Homo sapiens: one gene and its partner. The protein of the gene in region 1 purifies or fractionates together with the protein of each later gene. This does not show direct contact. Each region holds a gene or a part of one and is shown on either strand. Other genes may lie near its edges.

What was found. Proteins that work in one complex are often made in the same cells at the same time.
Region 2: the proteins of CEMIP (region 1) and MKRN2 purify together in Homo sapiens (affinity purification with mass spectrometry, with the first as the bait; one study listed by BioGRID). This does not show direct contact.

The regions. Positions count from the first base shown.
Region 1 is NC_000015.10:80,880,370-80,883,869, forward strand, and holds part of CEMIP (cell migration-inducing and hyaluronan-binding protein precursor), read left to right. Parts: intron 1-530; coding exon 531-767; intron 768-3,500. UniProt on the Homo sapiens protein: Mediates depolymerization of hyaluronic acid (HA) via the cell membrane-associated clathrin-coated pit endocytic pathway. Binds to hyaluronic acid.
Region 2 is NC_000003.12:12,574,087-12,577,586, forward strand, and holds part of MKRN2 (E3 ubiquitin-protein ligase makorin-2), read left to right. Parts: intron 1-705; coding exon 706-920; intron 921-2,544; coding exon 2,545-2,655; intron 2,656-3,500. UniProt on the Homo sapiens protein: E3 ubiquitin ligase catalyzing the covalent attachment of ubiquitin moieties onto substrate proteins.

The DNA of each region.
Region 1 (3,500 bases):
CTGCTTGGCCCTGAGGGCTTTATTTTGGTCTGGCTTAGGAAGATTGGGTTGCTAATGTTTTTGTTGTTATTGTTGTTGTTGTTTTGAGATGGAATCTTGCTCTGTGGCCCAGGCTGGAGTGCAGTGGCATGAGCTCAGTTCACCACAACCTCTGCCTCCTGGTTTAAGCAATTCTGGTGCCTCAGCTTCCCAAATAGCTGAAACTACAGGCATGTTCCACCACGCCTGGCTGATTCTTGTATCTTTAGTAGAGATGGAGTTTCACCACGTTGGCCAGGCTGGTCTTGAACTCCTGACCTCAAGTGATCTGCCTGTCTCGGCCTCTCAAAGTGCTGGGATTACAGGCATGAGCCACAAGCCCAGCCGCTAGTGTTATTTTTACTGACCTCAGGTGATAAAAGTGTGACTGGCTCTATGGTGGCCGTGGTGGGGGGTCAGGGAGCTGAGCTGTGACTCCTAGGTTCCCTCTGGGTTCAGTATCCAGTAAAGAGATGTGTCAGCCAACTCTGGGGAGCTGTTTTCTCTTGCAGGGCTGATGAAGGTATTCAGCCGGATCCTTACTATGGTCTGAAGTACATTGGGGTTGGTAAAGGAGGCGCTCTTGAGTTGCATGGACAGAAAAAGCTCTCCTGGACATTTCTGAACAAGACCCTTCACCCAGGTGGCATGGCAGAAGGAGGCTATTTTTTTGAAAGGAGCTGGGGCCACCGTGGAGTTATTGTTCATGTCATCGACCCCAAATCAGGCACAGTCATCCATTCTGACCGGTAAGGTTTGCCTTCACTTAAACGTATACTCATTCATTCAAAGTACACTTATTGAGTGTGCTCCCTGGCCAGGTGCCGCTCTAGGTGCTGGGAGAACAGCAGTGAATGAAACAGATGGGAATCCCTGCCTTCAAGGAGTTCTGTCCTTCCCCAGGCATTGGCCTAATGATGCTGAATTGAAGAGGAGCAAGCATGCACACATATGTACATACAACGTAGTTTCAGATTGTGATAATTGGTAGTAAGGGGGAAAAAAGACAGAGTGAGATGCTAGAGTGTAACTAGGGAAGACCACTTTGGATAGGGTGGTCAGGGAAAGGCAGTGTAAGGATGCAACATTTGAGCTGAGAAATGAAGGGTGAGGATATGTCAGGGAAAGAGTGTTCAAGACAGACAGCAAGTGCAGAAGGCCGGAGGTATGAAAGGGCATGACATTCTCAAACGATGGAAAGGCCACCAGAGTTGTGGGAGCACAGCGAGTGGCGGAAGAGCAGCATGCAATCACATGGGAGTTACAAATGGGGGCGGGACAGGACCTCGGAGGCTGCGGTAAGGACGTGGGTTTTCTTCTAAGTGGGATGCAAAGTCACTGAAAGTCTTTAAGAAGAGCATGATCTGATTTAAAAGTACCTTCTGGCTGTAGAGAATGGTTTTAATTGTGAGGCAAAAGCAAAGATGGTGCAGGGGGTTAGGAAGCTTCTGCTGTGGTCTAGGCAAGACATGGCAGTGATGAGGACCCAGAAGGAACGGCGGCTAGTGGATGTACCTGAGAGATGTTTGGAAGGCAGCATGGGCAGGTGTAAGCTGGCAGATGCTGCCAAGGCTGGACCTGCCCTGCAGTCCCAGGAGCTCTCATCCTGGCCCTTTAGAGGGAAGGACAGAGGTGGGGTAGACAAACAGAGACAGAGCTACCCTGGGGCTGCTGGGGAAGGGAGACAGGCATTCCTCAAGAACAGGGCCCGAGCTGTGGGTGTCACCATGAAGGCAGCAGGAGCCAGCTACGGTCAGGGGCAGGGTGGGCAGGAGCTGAAGTGCTTGCTGGTGCTCACAGACACCCAACCTTGCCGGTAAACATTAGTACCTATAACAGTCACTGGACTTTCTCCCCGTAAAACACTGTTCATCACTTTACCTGTCAAATATACTTCAATCTTCATCAAAATTCTGTGAGGCAAGTTCTGTTATTATCTACCTTGTAGAGATGAAAGCACTGAGGCTCACAGGGCTAAATTTACTCAGTCACAAGGTTGGAAAGTGTTGGAGATGGGATTCAAACCCAGGTGTGCCTGTATCGCCTCCACGGATAACGGCTGACACCTTGATTGACACAAAGTATGTCAGGGAGCCCCTGCCTTCACACTAGAGAGGATGTCCTCTTCAATTGTGTGCTGATCTTTTTGGTGCTGTTTCTTAAGTACAACAGTGTTACTTGAAGAGATCCAACTTAAAGTTTATTTACTGACCTGTTAGTGAGAAGTGATCTGGACAGATGCTGTAGAGATGGCAAGGACAGAATGTCTGCTTGTTCCGAATATCTTTTGCTTAAAGTATATGTTGGAGATCTCAATAATCTGATAGATGAATGTGTATGAGTAAAGATAATAAGCGCATGCACACACATACACACACACACACACACACACACATACACACACACAAGTAAATGCAGGCAAAAGTCATCTGAGAAGGTTACTTAGAGAAGCAGGAACTTAGGTCAGCTTTTGAAAGGTAGTAGGTGCTTGATCAGGTACAGAAAAGGTGGGAAGGAATGATGAAGACAGGAGTGGGCGGGTGAGGTGGTCACTGGGCACTGAGAAGCACTAGGCTTGCAGCAGGAGCTTCCTGGGGAGGGTCAGTGGAGGGTGCGAGGTTAGGTGGGGCTGGACCAGATTGTGCCAACAGTTGGAAACAAGTGTGAGGACCCAGGAGCAGCTATCCAGCTACCACCGGTACCAACATTGTTTTTCTTTTCCAAAAACCTCCTTAGATTACTTTCCCAGATTCATTTTAGAACTATTTTCCTTAAGTTCCAAGACATACTCTTTAGGAATTTCTACTGTAATTGCATAAAATCTTTATCCTTACATGGGGAAGAGTTGGAATCATTACAAAATTGTGTCTTTGCTTTGTAAATTATTCTCACCAGGGGTATAGATTTTGTGTGTGTGATTTGTATTTCATGGATATTTTACGTGTATGAGGGCAGGTTATCAGTCAATTTGGAGATTATTAGTTCTTGCTATTATAAGAGATCTGCTGTCTAACATTGCAAAATACTGGATAGTACACTTAAAATTTTAAGAGGGTAGATCTCAAGGTAAGTGTTCTTACCACAATAAAGTAAAATAATTTTTAAAAAATAAACAGGAGAAAATAGCAATGCAACAACATTTACAATACTCAAATGTTATATGACTGCTACTGTGTGAATCAGAGATTACATTTTAATGATTCTAAGATGCATTATCATAAGAATCATTAACAGGTCAATAAATAAACTTTAAGTTGGATCTCTGCAAGTAACTCTGTGCAAGCTGCTCTAGGGGTGGGAGAAGGGATTTGGGATAGTCTCCATGTCATTTCCAAGAATTCTGGGATTGGTGTTTTACTCGGATCAGAGATATAAATTCCTAATGCCCTAGCTATCTGAACTATCTCCTAAAGTCAGGCTCTTCCAAGAGGCATGATCCTCTGCCTCCAGGATGAAAGGGGAACATCAAAAGGCCTAGACCT
Region 2 (3,500 bases), on another chromosome or scaffold:
ATTAGTACTGACTCCATGTGGCAGCGGACAAGGAGACACTCTCCATTGTCTTCCAGGGAAGCAGAGGGTTAGAGCTGTCTTCTTTATGCAAGTGTGTGAGGTCTCTGCGGTGAGTGTTGGCTTGTCTCAGATCTGGACAGACTGAGCTTACAAGGGCTGGGCCTAGGTCTTCTCACTCTTGCTCAAATGCCAGCACATAGAAGGAATTCAGGGCATGCCTAGTGAATGAATGAATTCATTGAATCATTTTCTTGGGGAGAAGTGGTGCTTCTTACATAGGACTAGGCTGCCAGCCTCAAGCCTCATGGTAAGGACGAGTCAGCATCTCTGATGTAGACATGGCTCAGAGTCGGGGGAAACAGTGCCCAGAGGAGCTGGGGGACTAGGGCCGCAGTCCTTACGGACTCTGACTCCACTGCAGTTTAACCTTTTTGGATCTCCGTGTTCTCAGTCCTAAATGGGTGGTGACCATGTCACCTCCTAGGAAAGCAAGGGGCTGGACCAGTGATGGTTTGAAGTCCTTTGTGTGGTCTGAGGGAGATGTCAGTGTCCTGACTTGGGGGAGCCTGGGCCTTTGCTCACAGCAGTCGCTGTCAGTGTTCCTTCCTGATCTCAGCTGTGGCAGTGTGGCTGCAGCTACTCCTAGGGCTCCTGCCACTCCTCAGTGGCCCACAACCAAAGCCTTCCTTCCTGTCTGTGCTTCAGATCTGCATGTTGACGTTCGAACACGAGATGGAAAAGGCCTTTGCCTTCCAGGCAAGCCAGGACAAAGTGTGCAGTATCTGCATGGAAGTGATCCTGGAGAAGGCCTCTGCTTCTGAGAGGAGATTTGGGATTCTCTCCAATTGCAATCACACGTACTGTTTGTCCTGCATCCGGCAGTGGCGGTGTGCCAAACAGTTTGAAAACCCAATCATTAAGTAAGTACAGCCAGGGGTCTTAGCTGTGGGAGCTAGGAGAATGTTTGATTTGAGACTTTATTCCGTCCACTTTTAAGCCCTCCGTTACCCTCAAGAGTAACTGGTGAGTTCTGGCCCCTGGCTGCATGAACTTCAGCAAGTCATTTACTCTTCCTGAGCCTAAGTGCCTGTTCCTATAAAAGATGGGCAACAATTCCTACCAAGCTTTCTGGGTGTTGGGGAGGAACTCAGCAAAGATGATCTGTGTAAAAAGGTGTTAAATGGCACTGACCTGTTTTCATCTCCTAGCCTTGTGTTTGAAATCCAGTAGTACCTGCCTGTAGCCCAGTTGCCTGTTAATCATTTTGAGCTTCGTTTTTTCCCCCCACCAAAAACGAAAATAGGGTTATTTGAGGATGAAGTGGAATAATGCATGTAAAACATTCTGCATGATGCCTGGCACATGGGATGTGCTCAATGTGGCCAACATAGGAGTCTCAAATTCTCCAGCAGGACAGGGGAAGAGCTGGCATGTGGAGAGGTTACTGCACGCGTTCTACTGTTCAGAACTCCACATCTGTCCGCTCATCTCATTCCCTCAAAGACCCTCCTCAGTTACAGATTAGGAAACAGGCCTGGGGTGCGGGGGTCAAGTAATTTGCCTAAAATCGTGTGGTGAAACAACTGCTCTATTGAGATAAAAGCCCACAATTTAACTCACCACTCATCCGCTTTCTGTCTCTACAGAGTTGCCTATTCTGGACACTTCTTATAAATGGAATCATAGAATTTGGGGCCTTTTGTGCCTGGCCCCTTTCACTGAGCATAGTGTTGTCAGAGTTCATCCCGACTGTAGCATGTGCCAGAGTCCCCTTCTCCTGGCGGAATATGTTCCATTGTATGGACGCAGCACATTTCCCTTATCCATTCCTCAGCTAGTGGACATTTAGGCTGTTTTAACTTTGCAACTATTATGAATAATGCTGCTGTCAACATTTGTGAACACAGCATGTGGGCATGTGTTTTCATTTCTCTTGGGTATACACCTGGGCGTGGGATTGCTAGGTTTTATGGTATAATAACTCTACATTAAACTGTTGGAGAATCTGCCAGACTCTGTTCAAAGTGGCTGCACCCTTTTACATTCTCACCAGCAATGTATGAGGGTTATTTCATCTGTCTTTTTTGTTGAGGAAACCATATATGTGTGTGTGTGTGTGTGTGTGTGTGTGTGTGTGTGTGTGTATTTTTTTTGCTTTAAGTTCTGGGGTACATGTGCAGAATGTGTAGCTTTGTTACATGGGTATCCATGTGCCACGGTGGTTTTCTGCACCTCTCAACCCATCACCTAGGTTTTCAGCCATGCATGCATTAGCTGTTTGTGCTGATGTTCTCCCTCCCCTTGCCCCTGCACCGACAGGCCCCGGTGTGTGATGTTCCCCCACATGTGTCCATGTGTTCTCATTGGGAAACCCTATTTTGTTAATAGTAAATAAGGTTCTTGGATGATTGTGATTTCATCTTTTGGAATTTCTGGTGAAGGAAATGCCTGTAGTGGTGAGGCAGTTGAGCAAGAGGTTTAGCAGAGAGTGTGCCCAGGCTTCGTAACATGACTTCTCCCTTAGTAATCTAATTCTTATTTCAGGTCTTGTCCAGAATGCCGTGTGATATCAGAGTTTGTAATTCCAAGTGTGTATTGGGTGGAAGATCAGAATAAAAAGAACGAGTTGATTGAAGCTTTCAAACAGGGGATGGGGTAAGTGCTTTTGAGTTTCGACGTGCCCCTGCTGCCTGCCTGGCTCTGCTGTCAGCCCGTGTCCTCGTTCTCCTTCCCAGGAGTGTGGTCTTAGGGGCCTCTTCCTCTCTTCCTTCTCTCAGGCACCATGCTGGGCTCTGGGATGCAGCAATGAGCAAGGACATGGTGATGTGGACCTGTTTAGTTTTGGTGTTTTTTTTTTTTTTTTTTTTTTTTCGGTGAGATAGGGTCTCACTCTGTTGCCCAGGCTGGAGTGCAGTGGTGCAATCTCAGCTCACTGCAGCCTCAGCCTCCTGGGCTCAAGCAGGAGCCTCTTGAGTAGCTGGGGCCACCAGTAGTGTGCGCCACCATGCCCAGCTAATTGGCTAATTTTTTTTGGTAGAGACAAGGTTTCGCCATGTAGCCCAGGCTGGTCTTGAACTCCTAGGCTCAAGTGATCCTCCTGCCTCGGCCTCCCAAAGTGCTGGGATTACAGGCATGAGCCACCGTGCCCGGCCTCAAATGTTCCTCTTTATCCTGGTTGTCAGCATGTTGATATTTTGCCTAGGAGTGGAGTGGTTTTTCTCTACGCTTATGTCACTCCCCAAGATGAGCGAAATTTTAGCTATTGTTTCATTAACTTTTTTTCTGTCTTGTTTTTTTCTTTTCCTGCTGGGACTCTACTTCCGTTTATGATAGTTTTTTTATATTGTTCATAGATCTCTGGGGATATTCATTCTTTTTCAATCTTTTTTTCTTTTCATCTCCTTGAACATAGTTGTAGCAGCTACTTTGAAATCCTTGTTATCTTGAAGTTGACCTCTGTTGTCTTTTAAGAATGGATCACATTTTCCTGATTCTTCGTA